7 linked regions of the Homo sapiens genome follow. The protein of the gene in region 6 interacts with the protein of the main gene of each other region in a pairwise test. Each region holds a gene or a part of one and is shown on either strand. Other genes may lie near its edges. The genes, in order: NUMBL, CDC42BPB, TRIM38, ANXA1, RNF216, RIPK1 and USP4.

What was found.
Region 1: the proteins of RIPK1 (region 6) and NUMBL interact in a two-hybrid assay, tested with the Homo sapiens proteins (one large-scale study listed by BioGRID and IntAct).
Region 2: the proteins of RIPK1 (region 6) and CDC42BPB interact in a two-hybrid assay, tested with the Homo sapiens proteins (one large-scale study listed by BioGRID and IntAct).
Region 3: the proteins of RIPK1 (region 6) and TRIM38 interact in a two-hybrid assay, tested with the Homo sapiens proteins (one study listed by IntAct).
Region 4: the proteins of RIPK1 (region 6) and ANXA1 interact in binary tests that used the Homo sapiens proteins (3 or more experiments, as listed by UniProt).
Region 5: the proteins of RIPK1 (region 6) and RNF216 interact in a two-hybrid assay, tested with the Homo sapiens proteins (one study listed by BioGRID).
Region 7: the proteins of RIPK1 (region 6) and USP4 interact in binary tests that used the Homo sapiens proteins (3 or more experiments, as listed by UniProt).

What each region holds. Positions count from the first base shown.
Region 1 is NC_000019.10:40,684,152-40,687,651, reverse strand, and holds part of NUMBL (numb-like protein), read left to right. Parts: intron 1-656; coding exon 657-741; intron 742-3,095; coding exon 3,096-3,235; intron 3,236-3,500. UniProt on the Homo sapiens protein: Plays a role in the process of neurogenesis. Required throughout embryonic neurogenesis to maintain neural progenitor cells, also called radial glial cells (RGCs), by allowing their daughter cells to choose progenitor over neuronal cell fate.
Region 2 is NC_000014.9:102,963,550-102,967,049, reverse strand, and holds part of CDC42BPB (serine/threonine-protein kinase MRCK beta), read left to right. Parts: coding exon 1-4; intron 5-662; coding exon 663-768; intron 769-2,399; coding exon 2,400-2,548; intron 2,549-3,500. UniProt on the Homo sapiens protein: Serine/threonine-protein kinase which is an important downstream effector of CDC42 and plays a role in the regulation of cytoskeleton reorganization and cell migration. Regulates actin cytoskeletal reorganization via phosphorylation of PPP1R12C and MYL9/MLC2.
Region 3 is NC_000006.12:25,979,802-25,983,301, forward strand, and holds part of TRIM38 (E3 ubiquitin-protein ligase TRIM38), read left to right. Parts: intron 1-3,362; coding exon 3,363-3,500. UniProt on the Homo sapiens protein: E3 ubiquitin-protein and E3 SUMO-protein ligase that acts as a regulator of innate immunity. Acts as a negative regulator of type I interferon IFN-beta production by catalyzing 'Lys-48'-linked polyubiquitination of AZI2/NAP1, leading to its degradation.
Region 4 is NC_000009.12:73,158,365-73,161,864, reverse strand, and holds part of ANXA1 (annexin A1), read right to left. Parts: intron 3,344-3,500; coding exon of another isoform or gene 3,330-3,343; coding exon 3,264-3,329; intron 3,171-3,263; coding exon 3,062-3,170; intron 2,537-3,061; coding exon 2,442-2,536; intron 1,603-2,441; coding exon 1,489-1,602; intron 1,063-1,488; coding exon 972-1,062; intron 1-971. UniProt on the Homo sapiens protein: Plays important roles in the innate immune response as effector of glucocorticoid-mediated responses and regulator of the inflammatory process. Has anti-inflammatory activity.
Region 5 is NC_000007.14:5,712,164-5,715,663, forward strand, and holds part of RNF216 (E3 ubiquitin-protein ligase RNF216), read right to left. Parts: intron 3,028-3,500; coding exon 2,890-3,027; intron 701-2,889; coding exon 552-700; intron 1-551.
Region 6 is NC_000006.12:3,078,494-3,081,993, forward strand, and holds part of RIPK1 (receptor-interacting serine/threonine-protein kinase 1), read left to right. Parts: intron 1-2,485; coding exon 2,486-2,623; intron 2,624-3,441; exon of another isoform or gene 3,442-3,500. UniProt on the Homo sapiens protein: Serine-threonine kinase which is a key regulator of TNF-mediated apoptosis, necroptosis and inflammatory pathways.
Region 7 is NC_000003.12:49,330,054-49,333,553, reverse strand, and holds part of USP4 (ubiquitin carboxyl-terminal hydrolase 4), read left to right. Parts: intron 1-3,500.

The sequences.
Region 1 (3,500 bases), on a different chromosome or scaffold from region 6:
TGGGTGTGGCCACGCATGTGCGGCTCTAGTGGGTTGTCTGGGCCCCGTTCTTTGTATGTGGCTGAGAATGTGGAAGTGACCAAATTTCAGTGGGTGGTGTGACCAGGTGTCTGCGGTGGGAACTGAGTGGGCCAGGACATGCTGCATGTATGTGGACAAATGTCTGTAGTAGAGACTGTGTGTGTCCGAACATGAATATGCGGCCAGATGTTTACAGTGGCAGCTTTCTGGGTTTGGGACTGTTTCTGTGTATCTGCGATCTGAGGTGTGTAGCTGTGATTGCGTCTATGTGTAACCAAGTGTGTAAAGCTGTGGCCAGATGCTAGGGACACCTGTAGATATGAGTTGGCTGCGTATGTGTGTAGCCCTGCACATGCATCTGGAGGGCAAGGCCACTCTCACAGCATCCCCTTGGGCAGTGAGGCTCTCCTGAGGCCAGCACATCCCCAACATATGCCCCCCAAACATACCTACTCCTTCCTGGGCCCTTGGAACCAGGTGGCTGATCTCCCTGGTAACAGTTGCTAGGACAACTAGGACTCTCATCAGGGAGCCCAAGATGGAGGGGGCTGGCCGAAGTCCAAAGTCGGGGTGAAGTATCAGACTGAGCCCCAACCCAGACAAACTTCTCACCTTCTCCTCCCCTACTCGGGCAGGGCGGACCCCGGAGGCCTGAGCGGCACCTGCCCCCAGCCCCCTGTGGGGCCCCGGGGCCCCCAGAAACCTGCAGGACGGAGCCAGGTGAGCGACCAGCCTGGGACAGGGCAGGGCTGAATGGGTATGTGGTCTTGCCTAACACGACCAGAGGAGCTGTCCCTGCGGTCACACAGGCTTAATCACACTCATGAGTGGACACCCTCAGGCATCTTCCTCAGCGACTGTCAGAGCCCCACTCATGCACAGACCCACACCCTGACACCCTTACAGCCTCAAGTGCAGAGTCACAAACACTCACATCTGTAGATATACGGTTAGAGACACACACACACACACAGATCTCTTTCAGATCACACACACTTGCTAATGCAGTGACACACTTGAACACATGCTGAAGTAGATGTTCATCACACTAATGTACACACATATATACACACACACACATTCCTAGACAACACCCAGATTCACAGGTGACCACAGACGCTCGCTGGATACAGACTCTGAGATACACACTCTCAAGAGACACACTCTTGGCCGGGCGTGGTGGCTCAATGCCTATAATCCCAGCACTTTGGGAGGCTGAGGCGGGAGGATCACCTGAGGTCAGGAGGTCAGGAGTTCGAGACCAGCCTGACCAACATGGAGAAACTCTGTCTGTACTAAAAATACAAAATTAGCCAGGGGTGGTGGCACATGCCTGTAATCCCAGCTACTTGGGAGGCTGAGGCAGGAGAATCGCTTGAACCTGGGAGGCAGAGGTTGCTGTGAGCTGAGATCATGCCATTGCACTCCAGCCTTCATTCGCAACAAGAGCAAAATTTCGTCTCAAAAAAAAAAAAAAGAGACACACTCTTGCACAGTCTGACAACACACACAGACCCACATTTCTACAGACGACAGCCACACTTTCACAGACAGCACCCGCGGGCCCAGGCTCTCACAGGGAGCTACGGTTGTGTACAAACATGCACACAGTCTCACAAAGAACACCCAGCACTCTCTCAGGCAACAGTCACACCCTTACAAATAACCCTCATGAAAACACTCTCAAAGACAACCTCATGTTCCCACACACCCTAACGGATGCACCACTGCACACAGATACACCCTCTGTGCAATACCCACACACCCACACTCTAAGGCAACAGCCACAGTCACACAGGCTCACCGCCAACAGCTGCACTCTTGGACACAGACAGTCTTGTAGATCCCTCAGATGCACTCTCCGAGGCAATGTCATCACAGACAATAGCCACACCTTCACACAGAGACATAGCTACATGGATAACAGCCATGGACACACCCTTTGAAAGACGACAGCCTCATCTCAAACACAGACACACCCTCACAGGCAACAGGCACTGAGCCACAAGTTCTCATAGACAACAACGGCACTCTCGGATATAGACAGCAGACACACACTCACAACCACTCTCAGACATCGATGCCCTTCAGCAACAACCTTCAGGGCCTCAGACTCACAGACAACAACCACACTTTTGGATGCATCCCTCACGGACAGCATTCACAGATGCACACTATCCTACACCATTCTCAGACATGCGTTCTTCCAGACAGCCTTCAGAAACACACTCACAGACATTACTTGCCTGCTCAGATATAGAGCCCCTCATAGACAGCGTTCCAGAACATACCATTGCACACTTGCTTACACACACACACACACACACATCCCCCTCTGCTGTTGGTGCTCCCAGTCCTGGGACTGTCAGGATGGCTGATCAGTGAAGACTGTCCTAGTGGCTGGCCACCTCCACACCCACTCCACACACCCACAGCCCTGCCTCTGACAGTCATCAGTGCAAGGCCCCAGAAGCCTTGCCTGGGGACTAGACACAGTTGTCACAGAATGGCTGTGTCTCAGAGTTCCAGAGACAAGCCACCATCCCCCATACCCCATGCACCTGACTCCTGCACCCCTGACCCATGCAATTCCCAACTCCTCTGCTGCCCTCTGATCACCCCACTGCCTGACTCTCATACCCCTAAAACCCCTGACCGTGCGGCCCCTGACTTCTATGCCCTCTAGCCCCCATGCCCTCCTACGTCTGATTTCCCACCCTTTGTGTCCTCACGGCCCTGGGAATGAGGAAGCATCCACCACATGGACAAGAAGCCCTCCAATGCCCTGAAGCCTGTGCCCCATACCCCCCACCCCAGACCTCCAGCCCCTTAGCCCCATGGTTCTGAATCCCCAGTGCCCAACTTTCGCACTCCCCTGGCTTCTGTTGGCTCCTTTCCTCACTGTCCCCTGACTTGAGCTGCTGATCCCATGTGCGCTGCCAACTGACCCTGTAACCCCGCTTCCAGTTATCTTGTTATCTGACCCCATGCTCCCTGAGCACTGGTCCCTCCCCGTTGAGCTCCATACCTTCTGACCCCCACCCTTGACCCACATCACTGTCCTGTGTCACCAGACGGGGCGGGCACCATGAACAAGTTACGGCAGAGCCTGCGGCGGAGGAAGCCAGCCTACGTGCCCGAGGCGTCGCGCCCGCACCAGTGGCAGGCAGACGAGGACGCGGTGCGGAAGGGCACGTGCAGCTTCCCGGTCAGGGTGAGTGGGCGCGGCAGGGTGCGGCGGGGCGAGGGGGACGGGGGCCGCTGTGCTGTGCTGTGCGGGTGCGCGGCCTGGCTGGGACACCAGCCCAAGTCGTTTGAAGTTGGTGTTAAAAAGCGTGAGGCCGGCAGTCCTGGCTATCACGGTGAAACCCCGGCTCTACTAGAAATACAACAAATTAGCCTCGCGTGGTGGCGGGCGCCTGTAGTCCCAGCTACTGGGGAGGCTGAGACAGGAGAATCGCTTGAACCCGGGAGGCGGA
Region 2 (3,500 bases), on a different chromosome or scaffold from region 6:
AGTGGTACGTGCGCGGCCCCATTAGCGGCCGTGAATCCGCTCCCTGCTCAGTCCATGGGGTCTGCCCCGCCTCTTCTGCCTGATCCTGTGCTCCACGCCAGGCCGTGCCTCTCAGGCTGGGGTGCAGGTCTCACTGCTGTTCCCCAGAACTTCTCATGTCTGGGGCAGTGGTTCTGTTGGAATAGAGGTGGAGATACGCCCCCACCAACCCACTGAAGGACTTGGGGCAAACCGTTCACACCCCTTGCGTTCTCAGAGACAGGGGAGGCAGAGCCCTCCCAAAGCGGCTGCAGAAGCAGCAGGGAGACTTGGAGCGAGCTGGGACCTGGCCCTCCGCTCCTAAGGTGTGAAGTTGTAATTAAAAAAAGAGTTTTTATTTTTAATTTTTGTGGGTGCGTAGTAGGTATATATATTTATGGAGTAATAGAATTTTTTCATTCTTGAGTCTTGGAAGTTTGGTGTCTTTTTAAACTGCAGTCATGTGCAATGTAACGACGCATCCATCAATGAGATCCCGTGTATACAACGGGTACACTGCGGGCACTCTAGCTGACGTGACACTGTGTCACTGTGTGCCGAGGAAGGCGGGAACGTCCCCTTCTTGTTTGGCTTCTCCCTGATAGCCATGCTTCGTGAGATAGAACATCTGTTCCCTCCTCCAGGGTCAGTGACGAGAAAGATGCCCGGGGTTACCTTCAAGCTCTTGCTTCCAAGATGACCGAAGAGCTCGAGGCTTTGAGGAGTTCTAGTCTGGGGTCAAGAACACTGGTAGGTTTTGTGTAATGCCTGCATTTCTATTACTGAATAATTCGCTAATGGTTTTAAGTATAAATGTGACATATAAGTACTATTTAGGGAATTACAGTGATGCAAGAGACTTCTGTGTAACCAGTTCCCCAATTTAAGGAACGCCAACATTTGCCAGCTCTCAGATCATCATGGCTTCTCTCGACAGCATTCATTCGTTTAGCAAATAATTACTGAGCACTGAGCTCCGTGGTGTCAAGTTAAGACTGGATTCTGCCCTCAGAGAGCTTGCTTTTATTAATTTCATTGGTTCATTTAGTGATGTGTGTATTTTATTTTTTTCCTCCCGCGACAGTCTCACTCTGTTGCCCAGGCTAGAGTGCAGTGGCGTGATCTCGGCTTACTGCAACCTCCGCCTCCCGGCTTCAAGTGATTCTCCTGCCTCAGCCCCCCCGAGTAGCTGGGATTACAGGCGTGTGCCGCTACACCTGGCTCATTTTTGTATTTTAGTAGAGACGGGTTTCCACCATGTTGGCCAGGCTGGTCTCAAACCCCTGACCTCAGGTGATCTGCCCGCTTCGGCCTCCCAAAGTGCTGGGATTACAGGCATGAGCCCCCACACCTGGCCTTCCTCTGTCCATTTTCTTCTCTTTACTGTTATAGATGGAAAATGAAGCATTCTCAATTGTGTTCAATGAAAGGTTTTCAGTTTGTTTTAAAAAAGAAAAAACAGCAAGATGGCATCTCTGGACTTCTTTGATACCTCTCGAAAGTTGATGTCATACATTGGGCAACTCAGTAAGAAAACAGGAGGATGATGTTAGTGAACTGGCTTATTCCACTGTTGCTTCATCCTAGGTCACTCTGTCATTCTTCCCTTATTATTTTAGTCTTTTTTTTTTTTTTTTTTTTTTAATCACAGGTAGGAATGAGTAATGACATAATTCCCAGGATGGTGAAATAGCAAAACGTTTCAAGTTATGAGAAAAAGATAACCGAACCCTATAATGTACCTTAGGTTTGTAAAAGGGTCCAGGGTCCAGTGGACCCATATAGAAATTGCATTACAGAGGCCAGGCGCAGCGGCTCATGCCTGTAATCCCAGCACTTTGGGAGGCCAAGGGGGGTGGATCACGAGAGCAGGAGTTGGAGACTAGCCTGGCCAACGTGGTGAAACCCTGTCTCTACTAAAAATACAAAAATTAGCCAGGCATGGTGGTGCGGCACCTGTAATCCCAGCTACTGGCTACTGGAGAGGCTGAGACAGGAAAATCGCTTGAACCCAAGAGGCGGAGGTCGCGGTAAGCTGAGATCACGCCATTGCACTCCAGCCTAGGCAACAAGAGCGAAACTACATCTCAAACAAAAAAAAAAAGAAAAGAAAAGAAAAGAAATTGCACTACAGAATCACTTTTATTCTTCTAAAAGATAAAGTAAATTATTTAGTTATTTTTTAGAAGATTTCTGAGGAAGAGTAAAAAAAGTCATAAAATATCAAAACTAAAACTCCTGAGGCACCTCCATAATTTAGAGTTAATATCTAAATGAGACCGTAATGGCTTAAGGTTAGACAAAGATAACTTATTTGTTAACATTAGTTTAACAAGCGGATAACTGAAAATGCATTTTTAACGCCATGACCGTGTCTCAAGGACCCGCTGTGGAAGGTGCGCCGCAGCCAGAAGCTGGACATGTCCGCGCGGCTGGAGCTGCAGTCGGCCCTGGAGGCGGAGATCCGGGCCAAGCAGCTTGTCCAGGAGGAGCTCAGGAAGGTCAAGGACGCCAACCTCACCTTGGAAAGGTACTTGGTGCCAGGGTCTGACTCCAGGTAGGAGCAGTGGCTGTGTGGCCTCGAGCCCGCCCTGAGCCTCACGGGCTCCGATGCTCCTCGCCTGGAAAATCGGGGCCACGGCGTTTGCTGGAGCCTTAGGAGGCAGCACGTCGGGTTCACCTGCAGGAGCCCCGAATAGCAGGCCGTTCTGGCACTGAGGTGGCCGCGAGGGTGCAGGGCCTTGCCTGCCGCGGGGGGGTGTGGTGCGGTGCGAGCCGTGTTTTGACGGCAGCGGGTGCTTGTGCCCCCACGCTGGGTAGCGAGACTCACACCGCTGTCTGACAGGAGCCCCTCTCACTGCTTAGTCACCTCCGTGCCGCTCCATTCACTAATTCAAGATTGTTCCTTTCAAGCTAACGTGAATATTTTAAAACAGAGGTTGAAGATGGCATTCTCACTTGAAATTTTTCCCTAACTCCAAGCAGTAACGAGAACGCCATTTTCACACAGCAGTGATTCAGTCAGTATTTGCTGAGAGTCTCCTCTTTGCAGATCTGGTTTTACGAGGATACGATAATGAACGTCAGTTTCATAAAAACCAGGCCAGCTCTGCTGTGCCATGAGGCAGGCGAGGACCTGGAAGGGACAGTGTCTCTAACAGAATTACCAAGTCCCAAATCCTGTTAGTTTGGGGCTAAAAAATTAATGGTAATAGGTTTCAGTTAAATTGACTTTCTTTATACTGGGAATTGCTGTAAGACTGTTCTGTTGTTAAATCCTGTGACCCTCCCACAGCCCAACAGGGTAGGCAGTCTTGTTACTCCCACTTACACACACTCCGCAGGTGATTTGCCCACTGTCACCCCACTGATGAGTGGACCAGCCCCCACAAACTGCATCCCTCCCGGCCAGGTGTTCCCCGTGGCAGCCTGACTTCCTCTGTCCCCTGCACGAAGTTGCTGGAATTGCAAGGCTACCCGTG
Region 3 (3,500 bases), about 23 Mb from region 6:
TTTAATTTTTCTAAGATAAGCATTTAAAGCCTACAAATTTTCCTTAAAATTCTGCTTTAGCTTCATTGTATATTTTTATAAATAACTTTTTATTATTGTTCCATTCTATACATCTTCTAATGACTTATTAGTAGTTTACATTTCCTAATATTTAGAATCTTTTTAGTCATCTTTTTATTATTGGTTTATAATCTTATATTGAGGCTAGAGAAAATGATCTGTGTAATACAGATTTATTGAAACTTGTTCAGACTGTTTTCTGCCTAGTATTTACTCAGTTAGTGCATGTTCCATCTATACCTGAGAAAACTGCATATTCTCTGCTTACTATTATTAAACAATTGCTGAGCTTTATGTATTGACTATGAGATTGCGCTTCTTAGATTGTTCAGACCTTCCGTATCTTCCCTTATTTCTTTCTTTTGGTCTGCCTGATCTATCAATTATGGAAAGAAGAATGTTAAAACATCCCATGATGATTGTAGATTTGTCCATTTCTCCTATAATTCTACAATTTTTGCTTTGTATATTAACACAATTCTAAACATGAATTCACTAATAATGTAGTACATTTATGTTTAAAATTGTGTTATCTTTTTTAGGTGACTCCTTTCATTCTTTCTTTTTTTTTTTTTTTGAGACAGAATCTCTCTCTGTCACCCAGGCTGTAGTGTAGTGGCGAAATCTCAGCTCACTGCAACCTCTGCCTCCCCGGTTCAAGTGATTCTTGTGCTTCAGCCTCCCAAGTAGCTGGGATTACAGGCATGTGCCACAATGCCCAGCTAATTGTTGTATTTTTGGTAGAGCCAGGGTTTTGCCATGTTGGGCAGGCTGGTCTTGAACTCCTGGCTTCAAGTGATCCGCCTGCCTTGGCCTCCCAAAGTGCTGGGATTACAGGCATGAGCCACCACACCTGGCCCTTCTTCCATTCTTAATAATGCTCTGACTTAATATCTTTTGATATAATACTATAACAGTATATGACTATATTATCTATCTTTTAGCTTCCAATCTTTCTATATGTTTTTGTTGATGTGTCACACCAATAGATAGGTGGAATTTTAAAAATCCAATTGATATTTTTTCTCTTAAGTGGTATTACCACCCCGTAAACATTTTAATTTCTCAACATGGGTTTTCCTGGGTCATTCAGGTAATATGAATTGAAACCCCAAACTTCTGTGAGTCAGGCTGATAAAAGCTAACTGAATAGAGTTTGAAAAAGGAGGGTATTTACAAAGGTGAGGAGTTGGGAAATCCACAAGGAACAGGAAGCACCCAGAACTAGGAACAGTTAGAGAGCCATCACCTCCTCTGGGCCTCAAGTGGCAGGTGTAGGGAGCTGTAACTATACTAGAGTGTGCCCAGAGGCAGAGGAATGCAGACCCTCCAAATCATAGCGTGGGACTGGGGTACTGAATACTCCCAAGGCTGCTTCTTTGTGCCCTATGGTCTCCTCTGGTGCTTCCCATTGGCTGAACCAAGCCAGAGGGCGGAAAGCCTGGTTAATCTGTCCATGTCAGCCTTCCTGGGCACAGAGCAAGACAGGGAAAAGTGAGGGATTATTTGGAAGAACAAACAGAGAGCATCCAGCACAGGAAGTGTTTCTGAATACTTGAATTCCTTAATTGTCACAGACCAACTGATCAACATTTAACTCAGTAGCACAGTGGTTTCTTAACTCTCTTGTTAGAACATCCTATTACCATTTTTTATTTTTAAAACTGCATACTGTTCAGTATCTCACTTTAGGTTATCAGATCTTTTTTCTGTCTTGTTTGATTCTAGTCTGATATTTTTCATGTATATTGGTCCTCAGTGTATTATTATCTCATACTAATGCTTATGGAACATTATCTGAGGGGAAAGAGAAGAGCTTACAATTAAAAGTCATGGGACTAGGCATGTGTCATGAGACCTGGGTCTTCCAATAACAAGCTAAGACATTAGCTGAGTCATTTTCCCTCTCTGATTCTCAATGTTGGTGGTTATTCAGTAGAGAAGGGAAAAGGTATCTTTCTGCTCAACTGTCTCATGATTCCTGGAAGTCCTGCATGGGAGAAGAACTTTGGACAGGATGGTAACCATATTAACAGGTTAGTTCTGTACCTTGGCATCCTTGAATAATTAAGACGAAGATGATGTTGATGATATCATTATTACTACATGTTGTTAGAAGAGCTGAAGCAGGACTGGCTTGTCTGTCATAATGTAAAAGAGTCTTGGAAGATGTCCGGGGTCCAGGGTCCAAAACCCCTCGTGGCCTTTGGAACACCAAGCTCTGTGCCAAATGGTGGAAGGCTGCCCTGCCGCACCACAAATCTAAGCCTAGGGCATAAAACCCCTTGTGGCTTGGATGGAACCCAGGGCTCAGGGCATAAAACCCCTCATAGCCTCTGGAAAGTGCACAGACTTGTTGGTTCCTTGCTTTTCACTCATAAACGTGTCCTCTACTATCTCAAGCAGCAGAGTATATTCTACATGTGTCAAAGAAAATGCTAAACTGTCACAGCTACGCTTAATGCACCACTACCTTTCTACCCCCATGTCCTCATGCCCTCACCTGTTTACCCTCACGTCCTCACCACCTGCTTCTTTGTTTGATCACCAATAAATAGTGTGGGCTCCCAGAGCTTAGGGCCTTTGCAGCCTCCAATCTAGTGCTGGCACCCTGGACCCACTTTATGCACTCTTAACTTGTCTTTTCTCATTCCTTTGACCCCGCCGGACTTTGTAGCCCCCACGGCCTGGTGTTGGGCCTGATCACCCCAACAACTACCACTTATTAGGTGGTTACCATGTACCAGGAATTTTACCAAGCATTAAGCAAACATAAGCTTATTCAATCCTACCCACCATTCTCTGCAACAAATACGGTAATTTCCACTTTATAGTTAACAAACTGAGGCTCAGAAAGTTAAATGATTTGCCTAAGCTCACCCAGTTTATAAGAAACAATAGTTGGGTTTGAACACAGGCTGGTTTTATTGAAAATAACTTGTGGCTGGGCATGGTGGCTCACACCTGTGTAATCCAGCACTTTGGGAGGCCGAGGTGGGTGGAACACTTCAGGTCAGGAGTTTGAGACCAGCCTGGCCAACATGGCGAAACCCCATCTCTACAGAAAATTTAAAAAAATTAGCCACTTGTGGTGGTGCGCACCTGTAGTCGCAGTTACTCCGGAGGCTGAGGCAGGAGAATTGCCTGAATCCAGGAGGTGGAGGTTGCAGTGAGTTGAGATAGTGCCAGTGCACTCCAGCCTGGGTGACAGCAACACTCCATCTCAAAATAAAATAAAATAAAATAACCTGTGTTCTTCACAGCAACAAAATTATTTTTGTTTGTTTTGTTTTGTTTTGCAGTTAGTGTGACTCTGGATCCAGATACAGCTCATCACGAACTAATTCTCTCTGAGGATCGGAGACAAGTGACTCGTGGATACACCCAGGAGAATCAGGACACATCTTCCAGGAGATTTACTGCCTTCCCCTGTGTCTTGG
Region 4 (3,500 bases), on a different chromosome or scaffold from region 6:
ATAAACTATCACTGGCCTATATCTTGGCCATATGAAAAATATATAAACACTTATTTTTATAAACTATGTTTTATCAAACAAAAATAATCATCATTATTACCACTGACACATGGATCTAACATAAACATTGGTAATTAAATAAGAATTGCAGAAAATGAGGTTTAAAAGCTTCCTTATTTTTATTCTTTTATTAAATTCCTCTGAAAATGATATGCAAAAGCTATTGTATTCTCCATGCTTGGTATGAGAATCAAGCAGAAAGATCTTCTATATGCCATATATTGCATTGGGAAAGCCAAAAAGCCAGCAGCTCAGGGAAATGAGAGTAGGAAAATGGTAAGAGACTTGCAATTACCCTCTTTTCAGTGTTGAGCACATCATTTAAATGAGATGCTTCACTGGAGAGATAAAATAAGCTAAGACTAGTCTTTTATTCTGTGAATTTAACTAGAGATAAAGTGAGTCTCTTATGTTCATAACGATAAAGTTAAGGTTTCCAACAGAGAATTATAAGCACCTAATTCTTTACTTTTTCAAGGACAAATGAAAAACATTTTGTTAGGAGATTTTTTTGTTATTATATATTCTTTTCAAAAAAAATGACCTTGGGACATTTTTATAAAATACATTCCAGAATAATAGAAAAGTGTTTTTCAGAAATTTTTAAAAATTCAATGCTCTGAATTGAGGTTTCCATTATAATCGTATGTGGCCATTTATCCTAGAGGAACATTTTCTATTAAAACGCAAGCTTGATGCGGATTGGGACACCATCTCCCTTGTCAGCAACCTAGCAACTCAAGCGTTGCCTGGTAACAGCATTTAATAGACATGTGCCAAACAATAAAGAAACATTTTGATATGTGGAGATTCCAAAGCTGCCATAATTACCATAGACAGTCAATTTTAAGAAAGTATATTAGATTTCCTTTTCAAATAAGGCGTTTGGACTGTTGGACATTACAACTTACCCTCTCTGTAGACCCTGTTAATGTCTCTGATTTCTTTGTTAGTTCTTGATGCCAAAATCTCAATTAGAGTATCTTCATCAGTTCCAAGGCCCTAAATTTGAAGAGAAGAAAAGGATAAATGTAGAAAAAAATCTTCATGCAAGAGGATCAATGAGTTTTTGGTGTTCCAAAATTTGTTTGACTCTGTCATTTAGTAAATTTCACCCACAACATTTAATAATTACAATAAGCTCTATTACATTGCCCTAAAACAAAACAAGTTTATCATCAATATTTTGGGTAAAAATAAAAATGCAAATATATGACTCATATAGTGACATGACATGGAAGGTGTTAGTGCCAACATTTCTGTTTTCATTTATATATTAATTCCTTCATTGAGGTATTAATTTATTTATTCTTCAAACTCCCACTGATTGACAGGTACTATACTAGATTTTGAAAATAACATAAGCATAAGTGACTTGCCCAATACATCCTCTTGAGGAAAGGAGTTTGCTCAAATTGGGCGATTTACCTTCATGGCAGCACGAAGTTCATCAGCATCAAATTGCGCTGGAGTTTTTAGCAGAGCTAAAACAACCTCCTCAAGGTGACCTGTAAGGGCTTTCTTCAGTGTTTCATCCAGGGGCTACAAAAAAAAAGATTAGAATCAGGACTTCCAATAAGTAACATGCTAGGTTAAAAAATGTGATATTACCTGACTTTAGGTCATCGTACAACTCATCCCTAAACCCAACCATCTTTTAGAGCTTCTTCCCTTCACATACAAAGTGTACCAAATATTTTGAAACATTATCTTACCCTTCCAGATCTAGAGGGATTAAAATAAAATTTACTGAATTCATCAATAACTTCTTAAAGCATAGGGTTAGTAATCTTATACACAGGGGAGAAATCACAAAGATCAAAACACAGAGGACTGTGTGCTAACAGAAAACAGAAGTAAAATTACTTTTAAAATAATATATTCATGTTTCCAATCTTTGAGGTTTGTACTTCTCAAATAACAAGCAGTATAATCAGATACTGAAATTATATAGTTTTCTAATTTCATTGCTTTAGAAAACTACTCATATTTGGTATAAAAGACATAAGGCTTATTTTTAAAGTAGAATTATATATAAAATTTAGGCATTAAACAGTTCAGTTTAAATATTAGTACATTTCAATCAGACCATATTCTTTATTGACAGCAGCAATCTCGATGTTTACGTTCAAATTAAAAATTTGTCCCCAGAGCACCACATCTGCAAACAATATACACCAAGATGACTAATGTATAAAAATAGGAAATTTGATAAAATTGATTAAATTGCAACAAAGTGGATAAACACTGCAATCCCAATCATAGATGTAATGAGAAAACAGTGGTTAGAACCTTAAAGAACTAGGTAACTGTGCTTCCGAATCCATGGTTAAGTATAACTATGCTGAAATTAAATATCTAAATTTACCACTCTAACTTACCTTTCCTGTTTCCTGGAGATATGCTGCTTTGATCTGTTGACGCTGTGCATTGTTTCGCTTAGTTAGAATGTCAATGATGGTTGCTTCATCCACACCTGGAAATAAAGGGCCAACAGCCTTTAACACCAATTTTCTTCATCATCAATTGACATAAAATAATTCATTACTGAGATGCTCCAAAAGAACTTCTTAACAAATTAAGAAATATAAATTATATATCAGCCTAAAAAATCGATGCTATACTACATATCAAGGAAGCACTTGGGAGAATGACATTTCATTCGAGTGAGAAAGGAAGAGACAATTAACTTTTCCTGGCCCTCAGTGTTGCAGTGTTTGATACTAGTTGCAACTCTATATGTGAACAGAGCTTTTAATTTCAGCATGGAATTTCTGCTAGAAATGAGCCAGTAATATCTGCTGTAACAATAGAGATTCCACTGATGTGAACACAATTTCCTCAGTGTTAAGTAAATAATTACATCTTCGTTTGGCAAAGAAATGTTTTTATCTTCAAAATGAAACAGATTCTTTCCATTGCACATGTCTGTTTTTTGACAGTCATTCAAATAGCCATTCTGAAATGTCCAGGAGGGAACTGTTTTGAGGAAACACGTTACCTTTAACCATTATGGCCTTATGCAAGGCAGCGACATCCGAGGATGGATTGAAGGTAGGATAGGGGCTCACCGCTGATCCGGGACCACCTTTGGATGACTTCACAGTTTGCTAAGAATGAGAGAGAAATAAATTAATGGCCATTTACTTATATTCGTTTTTATTTCAATATTGTAATCATAATTTTATTATCACTCTACTTACAACATATTCCTGCTCTTCATTTTCAATAAACCAGGCCTGCTTGAGGAATTCTGATACCATTGCCATTTTTGAAAAAGTGTCTGGAAAGAAAACAGTTAGATGCTTTTACAAAACAAATGCACCACACACAACCTCTCCTTCCTCACCTCTTACATACATAAGAGTTAGCATTAGAGAGTAGCCTTGCGCTTACTTTCCAGGATCAATTACACTTAGGAGCATAACAAAATGTAAGAC
Region 5 (3,500 bases), on a different chromosome or scaffold from region 6:
GTGCCAAGATATGTAGACAGAAGTTTGAGCTACAGTCTGGGCGCGGTGGCTCACGCCTGTAGTCCCAGCACTTTGGGAGGCTGAGGTGGGTGGATCATTTGAGGTCAGGAGTTGGAGACCAGCCTGGCCAACATGGCAAAACCTCGTCTCTACTAAAAATAAGCTGGAATGTGGTGGTGCACGCCTGTAATCCAGGCTACTCAGGAGGCTGAGGCATGAGAATTGCTTGAACTCAGGAGGCGGAGGTTGTAGTGAGCCAAGATTGCACCACTGTACTCCAGCCTGGGCGACAGAGCGAGAATCCACCTCAAAAAAAAAAAAAGAAGTTTGAGGGGCAGATTTTTCCATTAATAGAATTACTGGTTACTCAATGGTTCTGAGGCGTAAAAAATAAAAATAAATAAGTAAAATTATTGATAATCTTATTTCTCAGCAAGAAATGTCAAAAAACCTGGAAGATAAACACAATTTTCATCATCTGATGCAAGTGCCCAGGTAGTTTTCACAATGGGGAAGAGTTGGCAGATGGCACGCTCTGCCTGAGAACGAACCTGACAAGCTCGTCGGCGTAGGCTGCCGCAACCTCCTCCTCGGCTTTTCGCTCATAGTACTTATACAGGATGGTCTGGGGGAGCACCTTCTCCAGCTCACTGGTTGGGAACGAACACGTGCAGCTGCCTTCCATGCAGCTGAGCTCCAACTAGAAAAAGGCGAAAAGGCAAAGAAAAAAAAATCAATACCATTTATAGAAAAATAAAAAGCGTCAGTGGTTAAAAACATAGATCCTGAGACAACATAGCAAGGATCTCTCTGCCTGTTCATCTCTGAGAAATCACACTTAAATCATGGAAACCATGAAACAAAAATCCAGTACATCTTTGATATCACTAAAGGACCTCTATTAGCCCAAATCACAATCCACAAAGACTGAAAGTGGCGGAAGGGCAAATGGCTTAGCAGACCACACACAGAAGCCCATAGCTTAGGGTCTGAAAAGGAGATGCTGGGGAGAAGTTGTTCCCCTCTACAGATATTAGAAAGCTGGAGAACCTCTGGAAAGCAGAGCTGAGTGGTGGGGAGGGGCAGGGACTCAAAGTAATAAACTGAAAACAGGGACATGGGTGGAGCCTCTAGTTCCTACCCGCTTCAGAAGGAATTGGCTGACTCTGAGAGAAATGAGGAAGATCTCCTGAACAGCTGGACCACACGGCTCTGGACTGGAAACCACTCATAGAGGAGAGCAGAGCTGAGGGGTGGCCTGAAGTCAGAGTCTGAAATGGAGTCTGCATAATGAACAGAGAACTCTCCAGACCTTTCCTCCCCCTCAGTTTCAGAATGTTGGAAAATGGGCTCACACCCACCAGGCAGGAGGCAGACTGAATCACCCCAGGTAAGAGACTTCAGAGCCATTCAGGTTCATAATATAAAAGCTAACTGGCTCCTATGCACCTAGAGTCAAACTCACTGGTCTATAAGCCCCACTACTCACACAGCTTTCAAACAGCTCTTTAACATGAACAAAAAGTGTCAGACATGAGGAATGCTTCCCACATGAAAGACAAACACCAAAGAAAACAAATGGAAAAAGACGACATTTTAAAAATAACTAGCTAAAATTTATGAGGCATTTACCATGTGTCAAACAATAAGTTCATTAAACTCATCACCTCATTTAGCTTTCAAAACAATGCTATGATTATTTCCATTTTACAGAGGAAGAAACAGTGGCTTAAGGAATTTAAATTGCTCAAGATCACAGGGCTAGTATGGCTGATGGGGGCATGGCCCAATGCATTCTGCTTGACTCCAAAGGTCACGCTCTTTGAAAAAACATAAACTTTATTTATTTATTTTTCTGAGACAGAGTCTCGCCCTGTCACCAAGGCTGGAGTGCAGTGGTGCGATCTCAGCTCACTAAGCCTCCCGAGTAGCTGGATTACAGGCACCCACCACCACACCTGGCTAATTTTTGTATTTTTAGCAGAGATGGGGTTTCACCATGTTGGCCAGGCTAGTCTCGAACTCCTAATCTTGTGATCCACCCAACTTAGCCTCCCAAAGTGCTGGGATTACAGGCATAAGCCACAGCGCCTGGCCTATTTTTCTTTTTTAGAGATGGAGTTTCACTCTTGTTGCCCAGGCTGGAGTGCAATGGCACGATCTCAACTCACCACAACCTCTGCCTCCCAGATTCAACCAATTCTCCTGCCTCAGCCTCCCCAGTAGCTGAGATTATAGGCATGCGCCACCAGGTCTGGCTAATCTTGTATTTTTAGTAGAGATGGGGTTTCTCCATGTTGGTCAGGCTGGTCTTGAACTCCTGACCTCAGGTGATCCGCCTACCTCGGCCTCCCAAAGTGCTGGGATTACAGGCGTGAGCCACCCGGGCAAAAAGTCATCTTCTTAATCACTGTGTTAGTTTTCTATTGCTGCTGGAACAAAATACCACAAACTCGGTGGTGTAAAACAATGTAAAATTCCCATACTGTGTTTGTTATGCTGGTGTCCAGAGAAACTCACTTTGGAGAGAGAAATATGATCTTGTGTAAAGTAAGTTATGTTATTTTAATATATATTTAATCCAATAGGCTGCAAGGTTCTCTCTTTCTGAGGTAACCTTCCCTCTGAATACAAATAAGATGATGAACGAAGGAGGTGCTCCTCTGCGGCTAGGCGTGGGAGTGTGGAAGAATTCTACTGTGCCCTGAAAAGAAATCTGCTGTGCTCAGAGAACCCACATAATCACATACATCAGGTAATGTACACATAAGCATACCAGCAGAACTCCACCTCACCCTCAAAGAGGCACTTACACTTATCTATCAACATGGTCTCCTTAGACTCCAGGAATGTGTCCTATATACATGGGACATATTACACAGTTCTTACCTTTCCAGATCCAAAGACTGCCTCTTGGGCATATCTGATGAGACACTCTTTGCAGAACAAGTGAGCATCTGCGCACTGCGTCAGCTCCTCGAATGGAAATTCCCCATAGCAGCAGCGACACTCAATCAGCTGGCCATCCTGCAGGCAGTCAAGAAACACACATGAAATGTCCTGCACTTAAGGAGAGGGGGAGCCTTGTCTCCCATCCTCATCTCTCTGCCACCCCCCACACAAATTCTGAGGTAAAGCAACCCATTTTAGGGGCCATAAAACAATGATATGCTGTTTCGTGCTATATAAATCTAGCTCAAGATACTAACACAGTATTAATCCATACCTAAAACAGCGAGGTTTTCGTGTTTTTTTTCTGGTATTCTTTAGAGTAATTCTTTATATAAAGTTATCATATTCAATCCCATGGTGCAAAGGGAACTAGAACATCTGTACTCAGATGCTAATGTGATTATAAACAGCAAGGATAAGGAGTATGAGAGATGTTACCCAAAAAACTTTCAAAAGTTGAATTTTGTTCTTGTCATAAGGAGTGTGAATGGGTCTATCGAGGTCTGCGCTTTATTTTAAGGGACTATTGAAGCTATAACTAAAGCAGC
Region 6 (3,500 bases):
ACCTGTCCGCTGCTCTGCAATCTACAGTTCAGAGACAAGCCCTGTCTTCATGATGCAGACATCATCTGATGTAGAGTATATGCATGATGGGATGACATTAAATATGGATTAATGAAAGGATATACACTATAAATGACCGTGAGAGCAGATAGAATATTAGTGGTTGCACTTTGATACCATTCAACAAAGTTTTATTTTAAATTAAATATAGAAATTATTGGCAACAACACTGGATAGGATTTAAAACAAAAATAAAAATTGTTTACCAAAGTCAAATGATTTGAAAACATTTTTAAAAGCTTATGTGCCTGTTAAGATGAAGGCCTTGCGCTAGTTGCTCATGAATCAATAGCTAATATGACGTAGGAGAGTAAAAGGAGGCAGATAGCTAAATAAGTGGTATGGTGTGATGGGGTTTTTTTTTTTTCTTTTGTAAGAGAACAAGGTCTCACTGTGTTGCCCAGGCTGGAGTGCAGTGGCACAATCATAGTGCACTGCAGGCTTGAACTCCTGGCCTTAAATGATCCTCTCACCTCAGCCTCCTGAGTAGCTGGGACTATGGGCATGAGCCACTGCACCCAGCTGTGTGGTGGTATTTTTTTTTTTAGAGGAGTCTCGCTCTGTCGCCCAGGCTGGAGTGCAATGGTGCAATCTCGGCTCACTGCAACCTCCACCTCCCTGGTTCAAGCAACTCTCCTGCCTCAGCCTCTTGAGTAGCTGGGATTACAGGCGCCTACCACCATGCCTGGCTATTTTTTTAATTTTTAGTAGAGACAAGTTTTCACCATGTTGGTCAGGCTGGTCTCGAACTCCTGACCTCGTGATCCGACTGCCTTGGCCTCCCGAAGTTCTGGGATTACAGGCATGAGCCACCGTTCCCAGCTGATGGTGTTTTGATAGACATACTCATTGCTGAGGGAGTACACATGAGAGGCACCCACTCAGCCTGGAATAGACAGAAAAGGCTTCCAATGTGAAGGACATGTAGACGTTTTGAAGCAGAGAATTAGAGAACAAGTGTTCTAGGCAGAGAGAATACCATGTAGAGACTGCCAAATTTGGGGAACTGTAAATTCCTGGGTTTGGCTAGAGCATAGATTGCACAGGGTATGGGGAGGGGTGGCGGGATATGGCTGCCTTTATGGCAAATACTCCCACTTTTCCACTTTCTTCTCCCACCCCACAATTGCCAAGCCAACAGACATCTCACAAAAATACCCTTGGGAAGGAGAAGAGGTGATCACTTATACGCATGGTATTATAGTTTGATCAGATTGCTCTCCACCCCAGAACTAGAGAAGATCAGCTGTTTGAAGTAAACATTTTGATTGGGAAATAAGTCTTTGGTCTCCCATCCAAGTACTAACCAGGCCCAACCCTGCTTAGCTTCTGAGATGAGAGAGAAATCATTGGGGACATGAGGCATTGTGCAAGATGAGGGAAAGTTCAGGTGCACCTGTTTGGACTCAGTCAGGGCATCAGGAGGACCTGAGAGAGAAGCAGAAAGAGAGGAGAGAGGGGGACCAACTTTGCTTACTCAGAAGTTTTTCCTAAGTCCAAAGGTATACCAAGGAAGAAGAGAAAACATCTTTTCTGCTACTTTCTGTATGGTGGTGATCAAGCTATTAACAGTGTAGCTCTGCTACGTTATGTCATAAATATGGTTTGAGGGGGAATCTCACTTCTATCATTAAAATTTTTTTCCTGTTAACCAACGACCAAAATACATATACATTTTTAGGAAACATCTTGTTTGTATACTGATTTTTTATTGTTAAGCAAAACTGTAATTTAACCACTATAATAGAAACTGGAATTGTTTCTGTTAGTATTGATGCTCACATAACAAGAATACAATTATAAGAACCAGTGACCTGAGACTCTACAGAAGCCTGAAGTATCTGCTACCAGGTCATCAAATAGATATTAATTCACTTAAGCGTAGTTTTAACATCATGTTTATCTCAGATTTTTCTATGATTGTAATCAGTGTGAACATGTTCCCTTGTATTCTTTTTTCTCTTAATGTTATTTTACACGCGACATTTGCATGGCATTGTTCATGTCCTTAATGTAAACTTAGTATGATGTCGTGTGAGTATCCCACAGAAACTGCTTGCTCGTATATTTATTCATCCATTCATTCAACAAGCATTCCAGGTACAATCCTAGGTTCTAAAGATACAGTCCTAAATAATATATATTTTTGTTCTCAAGGAGCTTAATTTTATAGTATTTTATGCATTACCAAATTATTGTGGGATTTTTGTTTTTACACTAACAAAATACAACACGAATACCCTCTGCCCCCCCCCGAATGAAATCTTTCTTGTTTCCCAGTGACAGCAGTACTGTGGTGCACCTGCTGGAAGGAAACCTGGTAACCTTCTCCTCAGGCTCAGATCCCACCACCCTTTCATGAAACAGTTGCTTTGGCCTATTTGATAACCTTTCCATTTCATAGACTTAATATCACTTGTTTTAGATGAGTACTCCGCTTTCTGTAAAAGGAAGGATAATTTTGGAAATCATTGAAGGAATGTGCTACTTACATGGAAAAGGCGTGATACACAAGGACCTGAAGCCTGAAAATATCCTTGTTGATAATGACTTCCACATTAAGGTAAACCATCATCGGTAGGCTTCCAGAAAGTTGGGTGATTTTAGTTTTAATTCTCCAATGTAAATCCATTCTCGTACATTGGAGAAGCTAAAGGAAGACCTAGCTCAGCTTATAACTGTTGATGATGGTGCCGAAAGGCTCTACCGGTGATTGAGAGGAAGGCTGCAGGCTTGATGGGATCAGGAGATAACTGTCAGGATAACTCATATCTTTTGGGGGAGGAGTGGAGTTGAATGGGGTAGATGAGAAGACCTCTTTCCTAGACTGTGTTTTTTCCTCTGTTAGAAACATTTAGAAACATTCAAGGGTTGCCCTTTTCATCCTGGAATGGGCCATTGGTGTCATAATGTTCTCCAGGAAATCTGTGTCACCAAGACTCTCCTCCTCTGGAAATGCAGGGGAATGTGAAGGTGTGTGCGGAAAATCCTTAGAGTTCAGATATGGCCTAAGAGTGAGATCAGCGGCCGGGTGCAGTGGCCCACGCCTGTTATCTCAGCACTTTGGGAGGCTGAGGTGGGCGGATCACCTGAGGTCGGGAGTTCGAGACCAGCCTGACCAACATGGAGAAACCCCATCTCTACTGAAAATACAAAATCAGCCGGGCGTGGTGGTGCATGCCTGTAATTCCAGCTACTCGGGAGGCTGGGGCAGGAGAATCGCCTGAACCGGGGAGGTGGAGGTTGTGGTGAGCCGAGATTGTGCCATCGCACTCCAGCCTGGGCAACAAGAGCGAAACTCTGCCTTAAAAAAAAAAAAAAAAAAAAAAAAAAAAAAAAAAAAAAAAAAAAATCAGCAGTGCATCAAAAACCTCTACTTTGAAATTTTGTTTTATATTTGTATTCGATTGTTTACTTCTGTCTGTATTTTAAAAATCAGT
Region 7 (3,500 bases), on a different chromosome or scaffold from region 6:
CAACGTCTTCTAAATGTTCAAGTGAAAAGGAGAATTGCATGTCTCTCACTTCAAATCAAAGCTAGAAATGATTTGAGTTTGGTTAAGGAAGCCGAAATAGGTTGTAAGCTAGGCCTCTTGTGCCATATAGCTAGCCAAGTTGTGAATGTAAATGTAAACCTCCTGGACTTAAGTGATCCTTCCACCTCAGCCTCCTGAGTAGCTAGGACTACAGGTGCTTGCCAGCATTCCTGGCTCATTTTTGTATGTGTTTATTTTTTCTTTTTGTAGAGATGGAGTTTTGTCATGTTGCCTGGGAGATGGAGGAACCCAGGAAATGGTGGTTTCAGTGAGCTGAGATTGCGCCACTGCACTCCACTCCAGCTTGGGCGACAGAAGTGAGACTCCATCTCAAAAAAAAAAAAAAAAAGTGCTACTCTAGTGAACACATGAATTATAAGAGGCTGAAACAGCCTTATTATTGCTGATATGGAGAAAGTTTATTCATTTATTTTTTTTTTTGAGACAAGGTGCCATCTTGTCTCAAAAAAAAAAAAGGTAGCTACTGCTACCTCGTGCAGTAGCACAATCACACCTCACTACAACCTTGACCTTCCCAGGCTCAGGTGATCCTCCCATCTCAGCCTCCTGAGTAACTGGAACTACAGGCCCCACCACACTCGACTAATTATTGTATTTTTTGCAGAGATTTTTTGTGGGTTTTGTCATGTTGTTCAGGTTGATCTTGAATTCCTGGGCTCAAGCAATCCTCCCGCCTTGACGTCCCAGAGTGCTGGGATTACAGGTGTGAGTCACTGTGCCCAGGCTAAACAACAGGTTTTATTTTATTTTATTTTTATTTATTATTATTATTTTTTTGAGACAGAGTCTCACCATGGGGTTTCACCATGTTGGCCAGGCTGGTCTCAAACTCCTGACCTTAAGTGATCCGCCTGCCTCGGCCTCTCAAAGTGCTGGGATTACAAGCATGAGCTACTGTGCCTGGCCTAAACAACAGATTTTAAATGTAGACAAAACACCCTTCTATTGGGAAGATGCCATCTACCTCTTTGCTGCTAGAGGGGAAAAGTCAGTGCCTGGGTTCAGAGCCTTTTTTTTTTTTGAGACAGGGTCTTGCCCTGTCACCCAGGCTGTAGTGTGTGATCACAGCTCACTGCAGCCTTAACCTCCTGGGCTCAAGTGATCCTCCCACCTCAGCCTCCTGAGTAGCTAGGACTACAGTTGCTTGCCACCATGCCTGGCTGATTTTTATATGTTTGTTTGTTTGTTTGTTTTGTAAGACAGAGTCTCGCTCTGTCGTCTAGGCTGAAGTGCAATGGCACAATCTTGGCTCACTGCAACCTCCACCTCCCAGTTTCAAGTGATTCTCCTGCCTCAGCCTCCCAAGTAGCTGGGATTACAGGTACCTGCCACCACACCCAGCTAATTTTTTTTTGTATTTTTAGTAAAGACGGGATTTCAGCACGTTGGCCAGCCTGGTCTCGAACTCCTGACCTCAGGTGGTCCACCCGCCTTGACCTCCCAAAGTGCTGGAATTACAGGTGTGAGCCACTGTGCCCAGCTTTGTATTTTTTTTTTTTTTTTGTAGAGATGGGATTTTGCCGTGTTGCCCGGGCTGGTCTCCAACTCCTGGGCTCAAGTGATCTGTCTGCCTTGACTTCTCAAAGTGCTGGGATTATAGGCATGAGCCACTCTGTCCGGCCAGATTCAGAGCCTTGAAGGACAGGCTGACTCTCTTCTTAAGGGATACTGCAGATGGTGACTTTAGTTTGAAGCTAGTGCTCATTTATCATTCCAAAAATCCCAAGGCCCTCAAGAATTATGCTAAATCTGCTCTGCCTGTGCCCTACACATGCAACAACAAAGCCTGCATGATAGCATATTTATTTACAGCATGGTATACCGAATATTTTTGTTTTTATTTTATTTTTCTGGGACAGAATCTCGCTGTGTCGCCCAGGCTGGAATGCAGTGGTGCAATCTCGGCTTACTGCAACCTCTGCTTCCCGGGTTCAAGTTATTCTCATGGCTCAGCCTCCCAAGTAGCTGAGATTACAGACATGCACCACCAGTTCTGGCTAATTTTTGTACTTTTAGTAGAGATGGGGTTTTGCTATTTTGGCCAGGCTGGTCTCAAACTCCTGGCCTCAAGTGATCCACCCGCCTTGACCTCCCTAAGTGCTGGGATTACAGGCATGAGCCACCACAACAAGTTTACCGATTTTTTTTTTTTTGAGTCGGAGTTTTGCTCTTTTGCCCAGGCTGGAGTGCAATGGTGCGATCTTGGCTCACCACAACCTCTGCCTCCCAGGTTCAAGCGATTCTCCTGCCTCAGCCTCCTGAGTAGCTGGGATTATAGGCGTGCGCCACCACGCCCAGCTAATTTTGTTTTTTTAGTAGAGACGGGGTTTCTCCTTGTTGGTCAGGCTGGTCTCGAACTCTCGACCTCAGGTAACTGCCCACCACGGCCTCCCCAAGTGCTGGGAGTACAGGTGTGAGCCACCACGCCCGGCCTCCCAATATTTTTTTTTTTTTTGAGACGGAGTCTTGCTCTGTCACCCAGACTGGAGTGCAGTGGCGCGATCTCGGCTCACTGCAAGCTCCGCCTCCCGGGTTCACACGATTCTCCTGCCTCAGCCTCCTGAGTAGCTGGGATCACAGGCGCCTGGTGCCTGCCACCACACCCGGCTACTTTTTTTGTATTTTTAGTAGAGACGGGGTTTCACCATGTTGGCCAGGATGGTCTCAATCTCCTGATCTCGTGATCCACCCATCTCGGCCTCTCAAAGTGCTGGGATTACAGGTGGGAGCCACCGCGCCCGGCCTCCGGCCTCCAGCCTCCAGCCTCCCAATATTTTTAGCTCAGGGTTGAGACCTACTGCTCAGAAAAAGCACTGAGCTAATCTTATCAAAATGTTACTGCTGCCAGGTGCAGTGGCTTACGCCTGTTATCCCAGCACTTTGGGAGGCCAAGGTGGGCGGATCACGAGGTCAGGAGATTGAGACCATCCTGGCTAACATGGTGAAACCCTGTCTCTATTAAAAATACAAAAACAAAATTAACCGGGTGTGGTGGCGGGTGCCTGTAGTCCCAGCTCCTCGGGAGGCTGAGGCGGGAGAATAGCATGAACCCGAGAGGTGGAGCTTGCAGTGAGCCGAGATGGCGCCACTGCACTCCAGCCTGGGGGACACAGCGAGACTGTCTCAAAAAAAAAAAAGTTACTGCTCCATTGCAATGTACCTAGTTACCCAAGAGCTCTGATGGAGATGCATGAGGAGATTAATGTTGTTTCATGCCTACTAAAAACATCCGTTCTGCAGCCTGTGAGTCAAGAAGTAATTTCAACTTTTTTTGTTTGTTTGTTTGTTTGTTTGTTTGTTTTGAGACAGAGTCTCACTCTGTTGCCCAGGCTGGAGTGCAGTGGCTCAGTCTTGGCTCCCTGCAACCTCTCCCTCCCAGGTTCAAGCAATTCTCCTGCCTCCTCCTACCAGGTTCAAGT